Linked DNA regions of Homo sapiens: all the other regions are reported to be linked to region 3. The links are microRNA targets in miRTarBase. Many come from high-throughput screens and were not tested one by one. Region 3 holds a microRNA gene; each other region holds the end of a gene's coding sequence.
Evidence for each region. Region 3 holds the annotated microRNA hsa-miR-5580-5p (UGCUGGCUCAUUUCAUAUGUGU, at 2,664-2,685, opposite strand). A microRNA usually pairs through its seed, bases 2 to 8, with sites in the 3' UTR of a target mRNA and lowers its output. Matches are read on the target gene's strand: a 7mer-m8 pairs with bases 2 to 8, a 7mer-A1 pairs with bases 2 to 7 and ends in A, and an 8mer does both.

Region 1: the mRNA of NDOR1 is a reported target of hsa-miR-5580-5p. Seed matches in the 3' UTR shown: 7mer-A1 at 499-505, 7mer-m8 at 525-531, 7mer-m8 at 547-553, 7mer-m8 at 627-633 and 7mer-m8 at 1,682-1,688.
Region 2: the mRNA of NAT10 is a reported target of hsa-miR-5580-5p. Seed matches in the 3' UTR shown: 7mer-m8 at 5,568-5,574.

Annotation. Positions count from the first base shown.
Region 1 is chr9:137,215,995-137,222,994 of GRCh38, forward strand. It overlaps NDOR1 (NADPH dependent diflavin oxidoreductase 1), which reads left to right. Exons shown (of 14, transcript NM_014434.4): 12 at 1-23; 13 at 100-194; 14 at 278-3,367. The coding sequence ends at 422. It overlaps RNF208 (ring finger protein 208), which reads right to left and starts at 6,246. Exons shown (of 2, transcript NM_031297.7): 1 at 5,995-6,246; 2 at 4,265-5,744. The coding sequence starts at 5,218. The coding sequence ends at 4,433. LOC122513141 (ring finger protein-like) reads left to right here and starts at 1,500. Exons shown (of 1, transcript NM_001395982.1): 1 at 1,500-3,367. The coding sequence starts at 2,003. The coding sequence ends at 2,608. RefSeq lists enhancers at 1,211-1,950, 1,951-2,690, 2,691-3,430 and silencers at 1,370-1,547, 5,799-5,848, 6,789-6,838.
Region 2 is chr11:34,145,064-34,152,063 of GRCh38, reverse strand. It overlaps NAT10 (N-acetyltransferase 10), which reads right to left. Exons shown (of 29, transcript NM_024662.3): 29 at 5,156-5,980. The coding sequence ends at 5,872. ABTB2 (ankyrin repeat and BTB domain containing 2) reads left to right here. Exons shown (of 17, transcript NM_145804.3): 17 at 1-1,077. Among named protein-coding and RNA genes, the nearest start is that of NAT10, 43 kb to the right of the region's middle. RefSeq lists enhancers at 1,615-2,144, 6,454-6,623, 6,854-7,000.
Region 3 is chr14:53,945,800-53,953,866 of GRCh38, forward strand. It overlaps MIR5580 (microRNA 5580), which reads right to left and starts at 2,685; the gene lies at 2,628-2,685. BMP4 (bone morphogenetic protein 4) reads right to left here. Exons shown (of 4, transcript NM_001202.6): 2 at 7,477-7,601; 3 at 6,054-6,430; 4 at 3,937-5,089. The coding sequence starts at 6,423. The coding sequence ends at 4,233. RefSeq lists enhancers at 17-549, 550-1,080, silencers at 1,051-1,100, 7,741-7,810, 7,861-7,950 and a promoter at 7,957-8,067.

The DNA of each region.
Region 1 (7,000 bases), not on the chromosome of region 3:
TCCCTGCCTTCTCCCGGGAACAGGTGTGTATGCTCAGGGGCTGGGAAAGGAGGGGAGGGAGCTCCGGCTCAGCCCCCAGCCCTGTTCTCTGCCCTACAGGAGCAGAAAGTATATGTGCAGCACCGGCTCCGGGAGCTGGGGTCGCTTGTGTGGGAACTGCTGGACCGCCAGGGTGCATACTTCTACCTGGCAGGGTGAGCTGGCCTGCGTGCAGCAGGAGTGGGCCCAGCCCCTGAGTGCCAGGCCTCATTGCGCCTTCTGCGACCTGCCCCTCTAGCAACGCCAAGTCCATGCCAGCGGACGTCTCGGAAGCCCTGATGTCCATCTTCCAGGAGGAGGGTGGACTCTGCAGCCCGGACGCAGCCGCGTATCTAGCCAGGCTCCAGCAGACACGGCGCTTCCAGACAGAGACGTGGGCCTGAGGCCCGCGGCTGCCCGTGCCCCCTCTGACAGCCATCCTCCTGGGAGCCCAGGAAGGCATCCACGAGGGAGCTCCTGGCCAGCAGCCGTCATCCTCTCGGACCAGCCAGCTGGTCCTCTGGGAACAGCCAGCTCCCGAGCACAGCCGCACTCCTGTTGACCCTGGATCCCACCCTTTGAGCCTGACCCCACTGCAGCCTCTGCCCAGCCAGCCCTGCGCTCCCCCACCCTGACAGTGAGCTGTGTCCTCGTCCCCCCACCCCCTTCCCAGTCAAGGTGGTGGCCTGGGCCGCTCCACCTCACCGGTGCAGTGACCCAGGACGGCATCAGCAGCCCAGTGAGCACCAGGGGTGGCATAGGGCACCCATGAGGCTGCGCTGCACTCCTCTGCCCTGGGGCCACCTCGGCTGCTGCAGCCTGCCCAGCAGCACATTCCAGTCACTGCCCCCGCACTCCCACAGGGCTCAGGCTGGGCTCAGAGGCCACTGAGATGCCAGCTCCTTGAGAGCAGTGGGGGTGTCCCAGGCCAGAGCAGCCTCTTCCTCTCCTGGTCCCAGAAAAACCCTTGCAGTAAATGGTGGCCTCTGGGTGGTTACTTCTAGCGCAGGCTTCCTTCCTTCCTCTAGCTCCTCCCGGTGCCCTGGGTGCTGGGTGCTGGATGGATGGGCGTCCTCTAGCTCCTCCCGGTGCCCTGGGTGCTGGGTGCTGGATGGGTGGGCGTCCTCTAGCTCCTCCCGGTGCCCTGGGTGCTGGGTGCTGGATGGGTGGGCGCCACGGTGCACCCTTGTTGGGCTGCCTGTGCCCGAGTGGCCTCTGCAGCTCTTATGTCTGCCTCTAATGGGATGTGCGCCCTGACTGCCTCGTTCTTAAGGGCATAGTGGGTCGGCTAAGATCTGATCGCCAGGACTGCGTTCTGGGCAGGTGCTGGGAAGGCGGAACCAAGCCGTCCGTGCCGCTAGGGAGCCGAGACTGCCGGAAAGAGGAGCGGCAGGAGGGGGCGTGGTTGTGCAGCCCCACCCCCGGGAGGGGCTTTAGGCACTGGGAAGGAAAGTCCTGTTGGAGGAGTTCGGTGGCTGTTCACACCCGCCTCGCTGTCTTGGAGTCTTGATCTGTCGTCGGCGGGTCGCTGGCACAGGACTAAACATGGCTGAGGCTGGGCTCCAGCCAGATCTGGCTGGGGACAGCACCGCGTGGGCCCAGGATCCACCCAGAGCAGGCAGGCCTTGCTGGGGCCCCAGTCAAGTCCACTTCCAGTGAGGAGAGCCAGCCGGGAGGTCAGTGCCAGAGCTCTGGTGGAGCCCAGACCCTGCCTTCCCTGAGGGCCGCCCCTGTCGCCGCCCTGGGGTCCCTGTCCTCCTATCCTGACTCCTGCCCCAGGGCCACCACCCCTGAACTGTGCCCTGGGGCCCCCACCCTCCACCTGGCCGACTCCAGCTCTGGGCCTGTCAGTCCACCTGGGTCCTCTCTGGGCCCTGAGTGCCTGGACCCTCTGTGCCAAGCACCAGCAAGCAAAGGGGATGACCTTGGGCACCCCCAAGGTGCTGAGACTACAGCCAGTGAGCCCCTGCTGGGGGCCAAAGCCATGGAGGGTGCCTGGGCCCTTCCAACCTGGAAGGAGGAGGGGAGAGAGCAGGCAGCAGGGCAGGGGGAAGAGGAGGAGTGCCCGATCTGCACAGAGCCCTACGGGCCCAGAGAGCGCCGCCTGGCCCTGCTGAACTGTAGCCACGGCCTGTGTGTGGGCTGCCTGCACAGGCTGCTGGGCTCGGCCTCCAGTGCCGACCTGGGCCGGGTGCGCTGCCCGCTGTGCCGCCAGAAGACGCCCGTGCTGGAATGGGAGATCTGCCGGCTACAGGAGGAGCTGCTACAGGCCGACGGGCCCTCACGCCAGCCCCGCCGAGAGGCCCCTGCATCCTATCACCGCAACCCTGGGCCCTGGGGCTCCCTGGAGCACCGCTACCAGCTGCGCTTCCTGGCAGGGCCCGTGGGCGGCCGGGGCTGCCTGCCCTTCCTGCCCTGTCCACCCTGCCTGGGTGCCCGGCTCTGGACCCTGCGGGAGCGGGGACCCTGTGCCCGCCGCCTGGCGCTGCTGAGCCTGCTGGCCCTTGAGCTTCTGGGGCTGCTGCTGGTCTTCACGCCGCTCCTGCTGCTGGGACTGCTCTTCGTGCTCCTGGACCGCTCTGGCCGCTGAGCAGAGCCCAGGACAGCCCCGCCGCCAACAGGCCAGGGGGCCCAGACTGGCCCACGTCCCCATGCCTGGGTGCTGTGAGGCCTGATGACCAGGCTGGAAAAACCCAAGGTTGGGTCCAGGGCAGTGGCCTTCAATCAAGACCTCCCATTGCTGAACCCACAACCAGGGCTACCCAGAGGCCTGACCCTGCCAGAGTCCATGGCTGCACTGCTGCCCAGACACTAGCTGAACCCAAGGACACCAGCGCCCAAGGACAGCTCCTGGAGGAGGCCAGCCCAGCAGGAAAGTCTGTGAGCAGGACCCCATTCACCCTGCGGCAGACGGGCACCGTACTGGCCACGGGCTGACGCCGGCCACACTTCCCCTCCGAGGGCCAGCTGAGCACAGCAGGCATGAAAGCAAACAGAGATACAGCAGTGAGTCAGTTCCTTGGAGAGGGCAGGGACTCCGCCCACCCTGTGTTCAGATAAGGGCCAGTGTGTGTCCCTGAAGGTCAGGCCAGCCGGGGGAGGGGTCCATGCTGCGAAAATTCAGCCTGCAAAGGCTCCTCTCCCCACTTGATCAGGCCCAGACCAGGTGGGGGTTGGCGCTGGCCTGTGTTGCAGGGGACAAGGGCCCACCCAGGCCTTGGAACATAAGCTCTGCCCCTGCACACCCTCATGTCACCACACCTGGGATGGAGACATCAGGTGGCCCAGCGAGAGATGGAGGACTGATCCTGGAACGTGAAGCAGCTTTCAATAAACCAGCTCCTGGGGATGCCATTGTTACTACTTGTCTTTGTTACCCCATCTTCACCATCTGGGCGGGCTTTTTTTTTTTTTTTTTTTTTTTGAGACAGAGCGTCACTTAGTCACTCAGGCTAGAGTGCAGTGGCACGATCTCTGCTCACTGCAACCTCCACCTCCCGAGTTCAAGCAATTCTTTTGCCTCACCCTCCTGAATAGCTGGGATTACAGACATGCACCACCACACCTGGATAATTTTTTTTGTATTTTTAGTAGAGAAGAGGTTTCACCACGTTGGCCAGCCTGGTTTTGAACTCCTGACCTCAGGTGATCCATCCGCCTTGGCCTCCCAAAGTGCTGGGATTACAGGCGTGAGACACCGCACCCAGCCTGGGGCGGGCTCTTCCTCCCACCCAAGTGGTCCAGGTGCCAGACAGGAGGCGCTGGGTCCTTATTCCCCTACCACCATTTCAGCCAGTCTTTGTCCCTAACTCCTGCACATGCCCAAAGGCTACTCCCACACAACCCTGGAAGACCCAGGTGGGTGCTCAGGTCCAGATGGGCACCAGGAGGGAAATCAACTGAGTTGTCCCCCACACAGGCACCCCCACACCATTGAAAATGTCCTCTCTGCCCAGCTGGGGTGTCTCTGCACACCCACCAGGTAGTCCTGCCAGGCGCACACAAGCAGCCCACTCTGTACGTGTGGGGGTTTGCACCGACACAGCCCACCCGGCCCTCCTGAGCTGCATGCACAGCCCAGCCTGGCCCCCAGTGCGCAGGGCAGGCCCAACCCGAGCAGCGCTGGGCCTCTCTCTGGCAGCTCCAAGCTGGGCCCTCTCTGGGTTGCAGCCCTGGGTGCCCACCCTAGGCCCAGGCCTGAGCACAGCCCACAGGAGCAAGCTTCAGTCCAGGAACAGGTGCAAACTTTGGCAAAGAGTTTTAATGGCAAAGTTGGCTGCAGCGACAATGCCACTCGGGGTGGGGCCGGAAGCCATGGTGGGGAAGGAAGGGTCAGCGGGCGGCAGGGCAGGGCCGGGTCCCTGAAGAAGCAGCGAGCGAGGCTCAGCGGGCAGTGGCGGGCAGGCAGGCGCTACTACATGATGGAGCAGGCGGACAGTGGGTTCCGCACGTGGCAGGTGCACGCGGCCCCACAGTACTGCCGGAAGGTCTGGTAGCAGCTGCCCTCGGGCTCAGCCCCCCACTGACCCCCGGATGGGGCCGTCAGCGCCTCAGGCGGCAGGCGGCTCAGGATGGACGTGTTGACAGCCAGCGCGGCCAGGCCGTAGTCGGTGAAGAGCACAGTCTCACGGCGGCAGGTGGGGCAGGAGATGAACTTGTACTTGGGGCAGGACTCGTAGAGAATCTGCAGGCACTGCTCACACACAGAGTGCAGGCAGGACAGCACGCGGGGCCTCCGCTGGGTGACATTGTAGGAGTGCCCACAGGTGGGGCACTCCAGGGGCTCGCCTGCCGCCGCCGAAGAAGCCGCCGAGGCCGAGGGGCCAGGCCGAATCACGTACTGATTCACAATGACCTCATCCTCTGGGGCCACGCGGGGAAAGCCCAGCTCCGAGCTTCCCTTACGGGGCCGCCGTGGCAGTGGCGGGGTATGGGGTGCCCCTTCCAAGGCAGGCATGTCCCCCCCACAGGCCTGGTTGACAATGATCTCTGTGTCTGAGGGCCAGGCACGCTTGGGTGCCAGAGTTGGGGTGGGCCGGGGAGCAGGCGGGAAGCAGGGGGCAGCCGGTAGCTCAGGGAACTTTTCAGGGTGGACAATCTTCATGGCCTCCATCTTGAGGATGACATGGGGACCCTTCAGGCAGGACATGAGGAGGCCCGGCCAGCCACTGCCCGCCTCGGGCCCGGGGTCAGAGGGCATCCGGCTGTCTCCAGTCAGACTGGATGTTCGGGTGGGTGGGGGCGTTGTGTGGGGCTGGGGGGCAGGTGACAGGGCAGCATCCTGGTCCCGCCAGGCCTGGGGGGGGCCCCGGACGGCCCGTGGACTCCTAGGGACAGCCGGCGAGAGTTGGGGGTGCAGGGCCCCCCCCAGTGGCCACAGTGGCTTCTCTGGTCCAGTCCTGGGAGGAGGAGGAAGGGGTGGGGGAGGGGGAGGCAGGCGGGGGCAGGGAGGGGTGGGAGGCTGCCCTGGGCTGGGGGTCTGGCCCAGGGTCTCACCCAGGGTCTCTGGCTGCTGAGGCTGGCGAGGGGGCGCGGGGGGGGCTCCCCCTGCAGCCGAGGTCAGCAGGCCGCGGGCCGGGACATCGGGGCAGGCAGGGGCTGGGTGGGCCCCATGGCTCCAGGACAGGGCGCCCAGGGAAGGCAGCTAGCCGAAGCGCTGGCTGCAGGAGGACCGGGGCGGCAGGCTCCGCGGCAGGAGCAGAGGCGAGGCCTGGGCCAGGCCTGAGCTGCAGGTGAGAGACGGCATGAGGGCAGTGCCCCGGCCACCCCCACCCTAGCCCTCGCCCTGCACAAAGGACCGGGCGCCCGACCTCTGACCCTGACCTCAGCCGTGGGATCCCGACCTCCGCGGGCCTCAGAACCCAACCCCCTCCCCGGTCCCCGCCTCCAAGGCCAGACGCACCTTCCCGAGGGCCGACCCCCGTCGCGTGGGGAGGGGCGCTGAGTCCGCCCCCGGCCCCCGCCCCCTGCGCTCACCTGCCCCAGCCTGGCGTCCCGGCCGCGCGCCGCCGCCGCAGAGGTTGTCTCAAAGGCAGGCCCGGACGCGGCGCCCGCGCCTCGGCCCGGCAGCTCGGGGGGCTCCGGCGGCTCCGGCGGCGGCCGCAGCGACCTCAGGCGATGGCGGGGCCCGGGCGGCACCGAGGGGCGCGGGCGCGGGCGTGGGGCGCGGGGCGCGGGTTTCGGCACGGCGGCGACGGCGGCAGGTGCGTGCGGAGCGTGGCGCGCTCTGCGGCGGAGGCGCGGGGACCGCAGTGCGCGCGGCGCCCGCCCGCGCCCGCAGCGCCACCCCCCGTCTGGGGACCCGCGCGGGGTCCGCGGGGCGGGGCCAGCCTCCCGGCCGCCCCTCGGTCCGCTCCCGGCGTCGCTCTCGCCCGCGGACTGCGTGGGGGGCAGGACCCCCGCGTCGCCCCCAGTTCTCTCCAGGCTGATCCTGGGTCCTGGTCAAGCCCCCGCCCCCCCAGATTCAGGAGGAGAATCCGGCTGTTCTCCTCCCTCACAGTAGGAGGCCTCAGGACTCTGGAGTGAGAGGGAGGGGACCTGCGCGGAGGATCCCAGGGGAGCTGGTTCCAGGGCCCACCGGTGCCTTCCCCCGTCCCCGGCCCCCCGCCCCATGGGAAGGCCCCGAGTCCTCCAGCTCCGCCTGTGCCCGGTGCCGTAGCTCAGATAGATCGCTGTGACTCTAAGGGGCAAGAGCGGGGCGGGCGGAGCGGATCAGAAGGCCGAGGCCGGTGGACGGACGGGTCCGGTGGGAGTGCGCGAAGGACAGGCTGGCAGCCCAGTGCGGGGTGGAGGCGGCCCTGAGGACCGCACCTGCCCGGACAGGGTGGCCCCTGGCACTCCAGCGCGCAGGCCCGGGCCTCTCCGCTTCCTCACCCGGGGCTTCCCTGCCCTCCTGGGTCCGCCTTCTGCCTGTGGAGCCCTCGGGCTTGCTGGTCACCGTGAGGCAGGGGACCAGGGCTTCGAGGGCCTCCGCTGCCACGCT
Region 2 (7,000 bases), not on the chromosome of region 3:
CGCCCAGGCCCTCCAAGCTCTACTCACCCCTAGGGCCTCAGTAAACTCAGACCATCCCAACTGGGGCTCCTGGGGGTACAGGAATCCTTATGAATGTATAGAATGCATACTGCCTAGGCCCCCAGTCGTCTGCAGTAATTCAAAAGCTGGTATTTTTCTTCCTAAATGTCACATAGCAAAGGCTGCCCAAATCCCCAAACTTGTTCTTCAAAGGTTTGACAGGCTTAATGTGGGCATCCAGTGGCCTGTGGACCCCCCCCTGCCACCACGACTGCTGCCACCCGGAGTTCCCCCATTGTCTTTGGTGCCTGGGCTTCCAGAGTCCCTCCCATCAGGACTACCAGCTTGCTCAGTTAGCAGCAGAGGGCAGTTCCCCAGCTTGATGGTTTCTGAGCTAAGTCTGGCATGGAGGGGCAAGGGGTAGGGGATGGGGTGCTGTGTAGGAATGGCCTCAGCTCTTGTTTTGCTGCTGGTTTTAGGGGCCAAAGTAAATGGGTGGATTCTGGAACCTCAGGCCTAGACTAGGTTGCCTTTGTGGGGGCGATGAAGCAGAGTCCCCTGGTCAAGTCTCTCGGCTCCTTTAATGTAGGATTGAGAGCTGGGCAAACAGGTCCCACTGGGGACTGTGACTCTTGGAGATTAAAGGACAGGGCATTGATGGAAGGTAAGGGCCAGGAGAAGAGGCCTTTCTGCTGTGTCCCCTCACGGCCTTGCCCTCGAATTCTGCAGGCCCTGGGCTCCCCTGACACCTGTCATATTTATGGACCAGACACTGGGGCAGCATCAGGCACAGTCTGTCTGGGTGCAACTTCTTCAGCTGTCTGGCCGCACCTTAAAAACTATTTATTCACCAAAAGCCCCAGGCATTTCAGAAGGTGGCACTCAGGTCACCCTGAAAAGCCCCCAGGGGCTTGCAATTCTGGAAAATATTTTGACTAGCTGCTTGGCTGGATGTACAAAGAAATAGGCATTATTTTATTGCTGTAATATTGTATGATACTTTAACTGTACAATAATGTTGTCACTTACTGTAAATGTACTATGGTTTTATTAACAATAAACACTCATTAACAATGACCTTGGCCTCACTGCTCCTGGTAGAGGGTTACTCAGAGTTCAGAACTGGGGAGGAGCCCCTTAGGACCAGGAAGAGATCCCAGAGCTAACGCTGTTACTCAGGTCTCCCCCCTCTCAGAGCCAAGACCCTACCAAAGCCATTGCTGTGGCCACCCAGCACTCGCCTCTCTCCAGAAACGAAGCCTGGATCCATTCCTCACCCGCCCACGCTCACATTTAATTAAGCACATGTGTGCCACTGAGCTGGACAGACACCAAATGACTGAGGAATATGACACTATCAGGCTTTCCTGATCTCCACTCCCATCCCCTCCACGGCCCTTTATGTGGGAGCTATTTTGGGGGTTGTCTTCAGAGGCACATCCCCAAATGGCACAGCCCACCAAAGTGGCAGCAGGGCCTCCTTCACCCAGGCCTGACCTGGCCTGATTGATTTGAGGGACCTATCCCTGGGTGACTGCTGCCCCCAGGCCCAGCTAAGCTAAGCTGGCTGTACCACCACAAGGCCACTAGCAGAGGTAATGGAGGGAGATGGTGAGGCGCCGACTCAGGTCCAAGAGTGTACTGGAGTTATGGCTGTAGTTTTAGGTGCAAAGTTCAGGCACAAATATAAGTTTTTAAAACATTCCCTGCCAGTTAGCTGGGCATAGTGGTGCACATCTGTATTCCCAGCTGCTCAGGAGGCTGAGGTGGGAGGATCACAGAGCCCAGGGGTTCGAGGCTGCAGTGAGCTATGATCACCCCTGCACCTCAGCCTGGACAACAAAGCAAGACTCTCTCTCAAAAAAAAAGTCGCCTGCCTGCCTGCCTGAAACAGGTATAGAAATTCCTAAGGTCACTGAGAACCTGAACCAAAGTGGCTGTGGGTCAGTGACCGGCCGTGACTCAGGCGTTAGGGGAACGACATAAAGATCCCAGTCCCTGGCAAAGCCCAATTCCAGCAGGAGCTGCGCAGGGCAGCTCGAGGCCCAGCCTGGGGACCTGTGGCCGCACAGACCCATGGTGCCCTCTGGGGGCCACTAGGAGGGGGCGCACTCCCCCACACCATCTTCCTGTGCAGTGGCCCAAGACGGTGGTGGAGCGGGCTGTCCGTCCCCAGCACTTGCCATTCAAAGTGGCTGCCCTTCATGGGTCTGTGTCCAGCGTCCCCACAAGTTCCCCCATCCCTGCAGGACATGCCTTGGTCCGTACCCAGCCTAGAAAGCAAGATCTAGTTGCATTCTGGCTCCAGATGAGGGATCCACCATTTCCTCTCTTGAGAGGGTGAGTGGGGGGTTGAGAGAAAGTGGAGGTAGGAAGGAGGGAGCGGGCCCCTTGGAGCCTGTGGGTAGCAGGAATACATTTTTGAATAAACATTTAAAATTAAAATAATTACCAAAAAAAAGCAGACATGCTTCCAAGGGGCTAGGACTCAAACAGAAATGATCACTTACCCAGGCAGCTGGACCTCCTAATTCCGGGCCACTGCTCACGGCCTGCCCTGCTCCGCCTGCTATGAGCAGCCACAGGCAGGCTTGGGGGAGTTACCCTCTTACTGGAGCCCTTGAGGACCCAGGTGCTGTGAGCATGGGTTGCATCTACAGGGATTTCACTCGGCTCCAGTGGGTCCACAGGCAAGCATAAGCTGGCGCCTTAGCCGTCTCCAAAGAAAACACCTCTCCAGAGGTGGCAGGTACCAGTCTGCTCCTGCACCGACAGGGCTAACACTGAGATTGTCCTTTTTGAGGCTGTCTGGTTTCTTTCCTGCATTCAAATCTTCTCCTGAAGCTTTCCTTTAGGCTCTCGGCCTGGAAGGCCAGTTATCCTTTTCCACATTAGTCCCCGTGCCAGATACCAGGTGGCTAGAGCTTTCTCAACGGAACCAGCCCAAGCAGGAAGCCCCGGCCTCTCCCTTTCAGGCTGCCTTTCAAGTCCGCTTTGCAGGATCCAGATGATGTTTAACTGGAACCAATTGTTTGTAGAATCAAGGGCATGCCCCCTCAGGGGCAATCCCCTGAAATTGTCTATTCCAGCCCAAGGGGCTTCCGACCCCACCCCCTCCTCCAGGCCTGCAGAATGGCTGCGGGTGTTGTAACAGGCCTCAGATAATGAGTCTACATTTTTCCAAGGTGACGGTCACTTATTTCTGCCCCTCCCCCACCTCCCAGCCTCAGCGGCCCCCTTTGTGTCCCGTCTCCTGGTCATCCGGAGTCCTCCGGGACTTCCGGGCCAGATGAGCAGTGGAAGCACTGAAGCAGGCCGGCATTAGCCCCGCCTGGCGAGGGGGTATGGGGGGTGACCATTTAGTAACCTTCTTTGTTCAGGCTTCTTCAGGCTCTTCCCCTTCTGGTGACAGCACTCATGGCTGGCCTATCTGAATTCATTTCGCAAGTGACATTTCCTAAGACAGCCAAGCTTTACAGATGTCACTCTGTCTGGGGGCCAGATGGTGAGGTGTGGGGGAGACATGCCTTTTCAGGTTTGAAGGAGAACCCAAGATCATGACCATAAAATGCAAAGACCCAAGCGTGTGTTTAGGAACACACACTTTGCAAATAAAGAGGCCTTGTCCAAGGATACAGAGATATTATACAGAGCCAGACAAGTCTGACTGCAAAATGCATGCTCTTCGCTGGCCAAGGGAGACTCCTTTTCTAGCTTAGGTTGTGGTTTTATAACATGGCCAGTCCTGGCCAAGTGTGGTGGCTCATGCCTCTAATCCCTATACTCTGGGAGGCCCAGGCGGATCACTTGAGGCCAGAGTTCCAGACCAACCTGGGCAACATATTGAGACTCCATCTGTACATAATTTTTAAAATTAGGCAGGTGTGGTGGTGAGCACCTTCCCAGCTGCTTGGAAGGCTGAGGTGGGAGAATGGCTTCAGCCCAAGAGTTCAAAGCTGCAATGAGCTATGATTGAGCCACCGCACTCCAGCTTGGGCAACAGAGCAAGACCCTGTCTGTTTTCAAAAGAACACCACAGCTAGTCCTTATTGAGTATTCTTAGAGCTGGCATGTAACTGAACTTGAGCGGCTCCTCTAGTTAGATCTGATGAGTGCCCAGAACCCAGAGGCACTTGCTATGTGCCAGGCACTGTTCTAAACGTTTCCCATTCTACCCCACCCACTTCTCACCACAGTCCCGTGACGGAGGTGCTATTCCTACCACTCAAATTTTGCAGAAATGGACCTGAAGGGCAGGTAGGATGAAGTAACCTGCCCAAGGCCACGGTGAGCGTCAGGGCAGAGCAGTCTACCTCCAGAGCCCTCACCTTGCACCCCAAAGCAGAGCCAGCCGGGGAGACTTTGAGGGTAGAGACACTAAACAAAAGCTTCCTTACCTGTAGGATGATATGCCTGGACAACTTGCACAGTCCCATCCAGCTCTGACCATTTGAGCATGTGACTCTGCTTCTGGCCACGGTCTAAGAAAACCCTCTTTGAAAGGCAGGTTCAGGCACCCACCTGAGAAAATAAATAAAAATTATTTTCATGCCCCCTCCCTGCCTCCAGCAAAATTTCCTACAGACCTAACAGAGGTCTGTGGCCAGGAAACTTCAGTCCCAAGAAACGAAAGACCCCTAGGCTCATGTCCTGACAGCCTCGGTGACAAGCCTCAGCAGCCCTAGGGTCGCATACAGAACCTGCTCTTCTCCCTGTGGGGACGAGTCCTAGGAGCTGTATATGAAATACCCTTAGGCTGAGAAGTTACCGTTTCCTTCCCTGTCCTTCTCTGAACCTAGACAACATATCGGGGCTGCAGACTCATTAGCCTGGATACCATTAAACAAACATACCAAAGTATGTGTAAAGCCACCAGGTTACCTCTGTTCCCAACAAATGGAAGGGACCAAGTGACCTGGAAGGAGCTGGGAAGGAAATGAGGCAGTTCTAGCTGGCTTCCAGCCACCACACCAAGCCCCTCGAGGTGACCATAGCCACCTGCCACTTCTCCCGCAGACTCCTGGGCTGGGAAGCCCTAGACACACTGCTCACCTTTGACCTTGATACCAACACCTTCCAAATTCCACCAGGCAGCCAAGACCCACCAGAAGAAACGTCCAGGTGCGTGGATTTCAGAACACTCACAGGCAGCTGATCTTTCTAGAATGTTATTTATTAAAAATAGATTCTCTATCCTTCCCCTCACCCCTGCGAGCAAAGTGGCCTTTCCCAACATCTTTTCCCAAATGGATGAAACAGGTCTTGAGGACGCAGATGTGGCATTCTACATAAACTACAGGATCAGGCTTTTCTGGGACAGTGGGTCTGCTGGAGCCAAGAGTGGAACAGCACAAGACAACATCAGCAAACCCTGGCGCACCTAACCGCGGGCTGCCATGGATGCCGGGACGGACTGGAGTTCCTCCTGCTCCAGGTACAAGTCCACAAAGAGAGACCCAGCGGCCCAGCAGCAGCCTCCTGGGCACCACCAGAAAGCGATGTACTTAAGGGCCTCAGGCGGTCGAGAGGCAACGTGGCTTCCACATGTGTGGGAATGAGACTAAAAAGCTGGCTCAAAGCAAAATATGAACTTATAGGAAAGGAGGGCCCTGGACTGGGCAGGAAGAGAGAGACTCGTGGCAATTCTAGAGATGGCAGTGCCCAGCCATCAAGTTCTAAAGAGACCCATTTGGGAGTGACTCTGCCTTTAGCCAGGTTGAGCTCACAGACACACAGGCCCAGAGGCCGAATTCGCGGCCAGCTTCCAGGTGTGCCGGGGCCTCTCGTTGCTTTTAACAGTCCAGCCAGAGAGGGTTCAGTTAGTGAGAGTATCTTCCCATGATCAAACACAGATGCCCGAGTTTCTCTTCACTATTTCTTCCGCTTCAGTTTCATATCTTTTTTGTTCTTTGTCTCTCTGTTCTTCAACTTCTTGCTCTGTTTGGGTTCTTGTTTGGCCTCTAACTTCCTTTTCTTGTCACTAGAGAAAAATCAAAAATAGAAAGAATGAAATATGTACAGATCTGAACATCTGAGACTGCTTTAAGCTTGCTTTGCTTTGTCAAAAAGGGTTTCCACCGTCTGAAACTTGATGTAGGCCACCCAATTGGACATTAATGTTCTCTGCAAACCTATTAGGGGGCAGGCATTGTGCTGGGGCTGGGGACACACCATACAGACCAGCTCCTGCCCTGAGCCAGCTCTTAGTCTGTGGAAGAACAAATCTCGATCTTAACACCTGAAATCCGGGTTCTCCTCAGGGTGCAGTACACTCTGCTCCCCTCTCCCAAGACAGACCTAAGGCACCACAAGGATTCCCCACCACCACTCTCACCACTGCAGTGACTCTGGAAACTAGACATATTCATCCCAATGACCCTGAAGACAGTCCTTAATACAAGGCATGAGACTCCAAGGAAAACCCTGCCATACTTTCTGATGTGCTACTATTATTTTATTTTTCCTATATGAGAAGAAGAAAACCCAAACAACAGTAACTCAGGTGACACCCTGCGACCAGCCCCTGGATTCTTCATTGATATCCTGGCATAGGAATCACTCAGCAAACGGCCACCTGCCATTAAGAAACTTACAGGTTAAATTTTGCTCTGGGAACAAATACTTCCCTATAAGGAGACCGTGAAGAGTTCAGTCCAGAGACCATTAACATCATATGAATGAAGTACCTCTCAAAGGAAGAAAAAGAAAGGCCTCAGAGGACTTAATGATAGCTACCAGTATTTTTAGCTCACAAAGTTCAAGCTTTCACATTTACTCAGAGCCATCAAGCACATGAACAACCACACAACACTGGTTTGTTGGGCTCGAGAGGCTTCTCACTACCAGCAATGGCCAAACAAATGGCAGGAAAGGCCAAGCTCTGCAGAGTGAGGAGCTGAGGCCGTCTCCACAGCAAGCATGCTCCCCGGCCTTTTGTTCCAGTCAAAGCCACCGTGCTCAAGGCCAAAGCCATCATGGGCCCTGTGCTACATTTGCCATA
Region 3 (8,067 bases):
TAATTTCCAGTTATAGTTTTCAGAATTGTGCTAGTTTGTATCACAAGGTAAGCCTGAATAACTTTGCATCAATTCTAATTTGGCAGTCCACCAGTTATCCTAAATTCCCCTAGGGAATACTAATAACCTTCTGATTCCCAGGTAATGTAAGGTCACCAACGTTGCATTTGCATTATTCTTTTCCTTTTCAAAAGAGAGTATGTGAATAGTTTGTAAAATTGGTTTTGTGTTGAAGCAAAAGTATCTTTGATGACAAATAGTTCGGAGACCTGGGCCTGGGATAAGCTTTATGCTCCTGGCTCACCTTTGGAGAGGGAGTGGGGGCGGGCACGGTGAGTCCCCGGTCCAGAGGCCCTGCGGAGGTCAGCTGAGGTGCTGTCATTATGTATCATGGCTTGGCATCTCATTTCTGAAAGCAATCGTCCAGCTCCACTCTTGCACACCCGTGGCCTCTCCCGTTCACCTCCGTCCCCCGACTGTTGGGGAGCGGGGCCCTGGCTGCAGTTCAGCTGGGACCCAGGGCTCTCCGTGTCCCCAAGGGGCCCAAGACAGCGGCTCAGCCTTCAGGGCCAGTCTGCAGGTCCGACCCTCACCCAGCGGGCCTGTTTCCCACTCGCCCACGTCCCCGCTCCCATTGAGTCACCCCCATATGCAGGCCCACTGTGAGCTCGGAGGCAGGAGAGCCTCGCTCCCTAATTCCCGCTCTCTGCCCCCTACAGAAAACCCCTAAAGGTCTCGACCCCTCTTAAGCCCCTCCACCCCGGGGAGCCTTCCCCTGCAGACTCCACGCTTCTGCGCGGCCTTTTGACCCCATTTCGCATGAAATCTGCAGAGCGACCGCCCCAAGGACCAGCGAGCGCTAATCAGATCCGTCTGTGTCTGCAGAGCTTCACCTGAGGCCTGGGTCCCCGAGGGCGGATGAGCGGGCCGGCTCTCGGGCCCGGGCTGGGGGACCCGCAGTCCGCGGTCGGCGGGGATGGGGAGGGGTGGCCGCCTGCCGCGCGGCTCCCGCGGGCCGTCGCCAGGTGCACGGTCCCCCTGGTCCCCCGCAGGGAGGACGCCCCCTGGTGCCCCCGCCGCCGCCGGGCCTGGGAGCTCCAGAGCGGGCGGGAGGCGGGGTCGGCGGGGCTGGATCTTGACGCCAGTCCAAGGCCGGGTGACTACTGGGGTCTGCCCGCGCCGCGGACGCGCCGAGCCCTCTCAGTGTGGCGCTGCCCGGCGGCGAGGGGGGTGTGGAACGAAGCACGGTCAAGACAGAAAACAAAGTCAGCAGGTCACCTGGCAGGTTCTGGGCGAATTATGCAACGAAAGCAGGGGAATGTTTGATGCGTCCCACTCCACACCCCCCCAACCTTTTTTTTTTTTTTTTAAGCTCCTAGGAAGCCGGTTCCAGTTTAAGGGTTGGGTAGGGATCGACCAAGCAGCTCCTCTGATGTGGTTACGACTTTGCCGAACTCCTCAAGGGCGAGCTTCCCTCCCCATCTTTCTTTCAGTAATAGGAACATTACTCTGGAGAAAAAAAAAAAAAAAAAACATGAATGGGGTGAAATGGTAGGCTTGATCCAAAAGCAACGCCGAGAATCACCCTACGACTTCCGTCAGGTACTGAACTGAATATTAGGCAAAAATAGTAAATGCCGAAACCTAAATCACACACATCCAATTTTTTTTATTTTTTTTTTAATCTCCCCGGGTCTCAGGACTAAGCTTTCAAACAGAATTTAAAGAGTTAACGCTGGCCATAGCTCTTTGTTTTCCATGCTAACATTTGTGGCATTAGGACTATTTTGTTAACTAGGTATATGCAATTCACAGAATTTCACGGTAAATTCCCCAGACCAAATATTTGGCTGAACAAATAAACAACATTATCCATTCCTGAAAATAAGCCAGTAGGAGCGGGGAGGATGGAGGAAGGGGCTGGTTGCTAGAACTGGACAGCCACAGGGCTCAGTACTGGCCCTAGGATAATTTGTTCAAGTACTGGAGATCTACTGGTTCCTTTTCAATGACATCGACGTTTCAGAAAGTTGCTAGAAATTGGGCAAAACAAAATGAGGCTGCCTGAGGGCAATCTATAAGGGGCTTCCCTAAATGATTTATTTGAGCTCCATACCATTAATCAAAGGGGCAGCGACCTGGGGGGTTGGAGGGGTGGGGGAAGGATCCCTTTTTGCGGGGAGTTTTGGAGGAACTGTGTAGTCTTGCTGCCTTTGCCTGGGGCTCTGATGTCTTCTCTCCACCTGCGCTCTCCGGGGAGCTGGGGTTTTGGCAACCACCCCGCTTCAATTTTTATTGGTTTCCACTAAGCTGCTCCTTTTGGAGGAGTGTAGGACTTCAGTAATTAAAAACAAAAATGAATCCTGCTTCACCCACTCCACTCCCAGGAGCGTATGTAAGAAAGTGTGTACAAGAATGCAAGGGTGCACACCCCACCTAGAAAAATGCAAACGCCAGGAGTGTGCACCACACACATTCTTTGGGTGCACACACCACCAGCAACAGCAATACTACCGCTCATATCTACACCTTCATGATGGAGAAATGCGCTATCAGCCTTCCCCACAGAGAACATACAAAGACACTAAATGTTTCTGCTCCAAAGGGATCCAAAGGGATCTTGGTCTGTGCTGGCTCACTTCATATGTGTGAATTTTCTCAGCACACATATGAAATGAGCCAGCACAGACCAAGATTCAAGGCTTAATTTAGTTGTTGGTGGCAAGTAAGAAAAAGCAAAGGCCTCTCCTCTGCTCCTCTTAATCCCTACACCCGTCATTCCAGAAAGGCATTTATCTGCCTGCTGGGAGCCCTTAACTGAGGGTACATTAGCATCCTCCTTTTTATTAACTTTGTCCAAAAATTGAGCTTTTCCCTTTAAGAAACCCTAGCACAGAACATCAGATCTACCTCTTTCTGCCCAAGTCCAGGGAAGAGGGTGTGAGGGAGGCAGTACAGAGCGAAAAGGAGAGTTGACATTTGACTCGAGATTTCTGTATAATAGTGGGACACCTTCACAGTGCCTGCTTAGAAATTCTGACCCTTTAGTATCTGACCCCATTGTCAACCCCCACCCAGCCCAATCTGTTGGGATCCTAAACTTGATGAAGGCCTTCACATTGGGAAAAGAGGACAAGGGAAAAAGTCAAGAAACAATGGGAAATTCTATCAAGTGGCATATTAAAACAGTAGTCATCAAACTTTTTGAAGGTAGGGTACATTATTTGTTACAAAAAAAAAAAAAAAAGACAAAATAGCAGTGCATGCCTGTAATCCCAAAGAGGCCGAAATGAGAAGATTGCTTGAGCCCAGGAGTTCAAGACCAGCCTGGGGCAACAAAGAGAGAACTTGTTTCAAAAAAAAAAAAAGACAAAAGAAAAAACAAAAGAGTCCTACCTGGAGAAAAAAAAAATAAGTTTAAAAACATGCCTTCACACACACATTATGATGTTAGTGTACAAATTAGTTTTGATTTGGAAATATCACATTGGTACCTGTAATAACTGGAGATACCCTGAGGTATCATGAAAGCAGAGGTGGGTATCATTTTTCTAGGGTTGAGACCTCATCACGCTCAGCTGTGATACACCTCAACAGGTGAGTGAAACAGAAGATGTACAAGGGGCCTGAAATGAAGTCTTTAATCTGACCTACACTCCTTTCATCCCAGTGTTTCTCCAAGGCATGTGTCATCCAGATGGGAGAGGATACTGCATCCTTGTTAACATTAAATAGAAATAGAAAACAATTCATGCTGGCAATTACCATCTCTCTCTGCCAACAGTTTACTTCCTGTCCCTACAACTTAACCACCTCCAGGTACCACCTTTTGACTTCCATCCAGCCTCCAACTCACCTGAACAGAAAAAAGCCTCATTCAAAAGAGATGAGCCCGAAGGAAAAGAGAAAGGATTAAGGAGAAAAAAAAAATCATGATTTACCTTTAAAATAATGACTCATTTTATTTTTTTCTTTTAATACGTAGTTATAAATATATTTTGTCAAAATATATGATCAATATGGTCAAAACATTTGCACGTAAAGTCATAAATAAGGTCAAGGTGAATGTTTAGGGATTTTTTCCTTTTTTTTTTTTTTTTTTAAATAAAAGTCCAGCTATAAGGAAGCAGTCTGTGTAGTGTGTGGGTGAGTGGATGGGAACGTGTGTGTGTGGTGTATGTGGTGTGTGTGTGTGGTGTGTATATCTGTCTATCCTCAAGGACTGCCTGATCTCAGCGGCACCCACATCCCTCTACTACCATCTCCTGATAATTTTTCAGTACCACCTTATCATACTCATCCAGGTACAGCATGGAGATGGCACTCAGTTCAGTGGGCACACAACAGGCTTTGGGGATACTGGAATTGACAGAATTGACCAGGGTCTGCACAATGGCATGGTTGGTTGAGTTGAGGTGGTCAGCCAGTGGAAAGGGGCAGTCCCCATGGCAGTAGAAGGCCTGGTAGCCTGGTGGGGCCACAATCCAGTCATTCCAGCCCACATCGCTGAAGTCCACATAGAGCGAGTGGCGCCGGCAGTTCTTATTCTTCTTCCTGGCCCGCTGTGAGTGATGCTTAGGGCTACGCTTGGCCCTCCGGCGTCGGGTCAAGGCATGGCCCCGGCCATCATGGCCAAAGGTGACCAGGAGGGGCCGGAGCTGGGCCCAATTCCCACTCCCTTGAGGTAACGATCGGCTAATCCTGACATGCTGGCCCTGGTGGGTCCGAGTCTGATGGAGGTGAGTCACCTCAATGGCTAGCCCATAGTTTGGCTGCTTCTCCCGGGTCCAGCGAAGGACCGCAGGGCTCACATCAAAAGTTTCCCACCGTGTCACATTGTGGTGGACCAGTCTCGTGTCCAGTAGTCGTGTGATGAGGTGCCCAGGCACCACTTCTGCTGGGGGCTTCATAACCTCATAAATGTTTATACGGTGGAAGCCCCTTTCCCAATCAGGGCCCTGGTCCACCTGCTCCCGGAAGAGCCGAAGCTCTGCAGAGGAGATCACCTCGTTCTCAGGGATGCTGCTGAGGTTAAAGAGGAAACGAAAAGCAGAGTTTTCACTGGTCCCTGGGATGTTCTCCAGATGTTCTAGGCACAGTTAGGAAGGAAGGGGAAAAGAAAAAGCATATGAACTTTTTTCAAAGATGGAAGAGTCAAGAGATAGCTCAGGGTTGGGCAATGAATGGTGAATTCTGCTTATGCAGGGGAAACCTACTGGGGGAAAATAAGCATACCCCTTAATTTGAAGGAGCAGATAAGTGGGGCAGCTAACAAACCAGCAAAATGTAGCTAGCATTTCTCAAGCACCAAAGACAGAAACTATATCCAGCCTCCTTGATATGTCTAATAATTTCTATGTGTCAACTCCTCTATGGCACCACAATCAGACTCCTCTTTTAAACCCCCCACCTTGGCTTTGTGTCCACAGTTTTCTTTACAAGTGGTTGTAAAGAAAAAGAGGGGCCAACAGAGCACAGGCAGGAGGAAACATGCAGACAACCACCCTCTCCCTCTTCCACTATTGAGTATGTTACTAAACATTTCCCCAGCGATCTTGGAAACACAGAGCATGCCTTGTTGATCATGTTACAGAGGGGAAAATAAATTCCAACACAGTAATGATGCTGGTGGATTAATAACTCAGATTTACTTTGGAAAAGAAACATCCGCTAGGAAACATTCAGATCGGATTACAAGGCCCCTATTGAATAAACCCGACAAACACACAGCTGTAATATTAAATTCAGTAGGTGCTTTGAAAAAAACGGGCAGAAAACCTAGCAGAAAAGGCTTTGATATAGCAAAAACACACCGCTGGGGCTAGCCCACGTCTGAGTGCTGTCATTCCCCTTCCCCTGAACACCTCCCCCTCTGTCTCCAAAAAATAAGTTCGGCGGCAGCTCTGCAAATTCTTGGAGGTAAGCAGCTCTGTTCCTCAGCCTCCTGGACTGGGGCTTTGATGTAACCCGAACTCTTCTTCCCCAGGGCTTTCACTGCCCCTCTAGCCAGTCCCACCAGCCCTCCCCCACGCAGACTGGGGGAAGAGACTGACCTTCGTGGTGGAAGCTCCTCACGGTGTTGGCCCGGCTGGCCGGGCGCTCAGGATACTCAAGACCAGTGCTGTGGATCTGCTCTTCCTCCTCCTCCCCAGACTGAAGCCGGTAAAGATCCCGCATGTAGTCCGGAATGACGGCACTCTTGCTAGGCTGCGGGCGGCGGCGCAGCCCAAACATCTGCAGAAGTGTCGCCTCGAAGTCCCGCAGGAGCTCATGGCTCTGCCCTGAGCGGCGTCCTCCCGCGTGGCCCTGAATCTCGGCGACTTTTTTCTTCCCCGTCTCAGGTATCAAACTAGCATGGCTCGCGCCTCCTAGCAGGACTTGGCATAATAAAACGACCATCAGCATTCGGTTACCAGGAATCATGGTGTCTCTGGGGAGGGGGAGGGGAGTGGAAGGTTAAAGAATAAATAAACACCAATAAATAGGGAGAAATAGAGATGTGTCTGCATATGCATTTAGGGCTAGAAATGGAGGGGCAAGATGGAAAGCAGGTCAGAAAGATCAAGTTTGTGTCTTCTCCCTCACACCACCCGCCCACCCACCAGCTGCAGCCATGCACGGCCTGAAAGTAAGAATTGCCCTGTAATTACTTGGTCTAACTTGTTTACAGTCAAATAACCCCAAATCAGATAGCCTCCATCCTGTTAATCTTTTTTTGTCCTAACTGCTATCTGGGCCATGATCTCAGCGTGGCTTCTTGAAGGATAAACAGTTAACATTGAGGGGGTGAAAAGGGGTGGGGGAGGGAGAATTAAAATGGCATTGCTCTCCACTTTAGACCTTCAGCTTCTCTCCCTTTTCCTCCACCCTCAGAGCCCAACTTTCACAACTTCCAGTTGGTTCAGAGCCAGAGGGAGGGAAAGTGAGAGGCAGGGGCTGGGCGAAGACAGAGGGCGACAGGGTCCAGAAGCCGAGAAGGTGGTCTGGGAGCTAACCGGGTGGCTTGAGGGCTTATTTTATTGTGGCCGATGAGTTTGAAATATTCAGCCAAAAGTGCCTGATCGTGCCCGCTCATCCCCAGGGAAGGGGTGAGAGACGATTCCGGAGAGACCTCTGTGAGTTTTGACAAGAGAGTGGGAACGCGCCACGGAGACACTGGGGGCTCTCCCAGACAAGTTGGATAGGGGAAGGGAGTGGTTAGCCCTCAAGGTACAACCCCGGGCTTTCATCTCTTTAGCTCCCTCGCGCTCCCCTTTCTTGCAACGCTGAGAGGGCGAGTGCGCGCTAGCAGCACTTTAAAAGGAACCCGTACGCTTCCAGCGCCCCGGCTGCCGGGCCAAGAAGGGAGCGACAGTGCTGCCAGGGAGCAGAGTGTGGATATTGTAAAGGAGGTCCGACGGAAGGGACAGCCGGCGAGCAGGGGTGGTGAGGGCAGAGTGAATTCCGGGGAGGGGGAAGGAAGAGGTGTCTACTCACTGACAGAAAACAAGGCATATAATAACAGTCCATGATTCTTGACAGCCAATCTTGAACAAACTTGCTGGAAAGGCTCAGGGAAGCTGCAGCAGTGCGTTGCTCGGGATGGCACTACGGAATGGCTCCTAAAAGGAATATTTGAATATAATGAGACTCCACCGCAGACAGGCTCTGTTTTTCTTCCAGCCCCTCGGAGTCACGTGAGCGCCGAGGCCCCTCCCGCGGCAGGCGGCGAAAGGGCTTGCGCGCCCTCCCCTCCTCCACAGCCCCCCGCCCCTCGCGGGCCCGCCCCTCCAGGCGAGGCCAACCTCCGCGCCCGCCGCCCGAGCCTCAGCGGTCCGGGAGGAGCTCCCGGCGGCGCTCGGCAGAGCCCTCGGCCGGTGCCCCGCGGCCGCCGCGCTCCCAGGGCTACTGGCGCAGCGCACGGAGAACCCGGTTCTCGGCGCGGTGCGTCGTGCTGGGCCCCCGCGCCGGGCCACCTGAAGCCAGAGGATTTGGGGCGCACTGAAGGGACTGCGTCTCCCAGCTCGAACCCGGCTTAAGTGGGGCCGGGAGCGAGGTCGGGAAAGTCTCACCCGCCCAAAGCCTCAC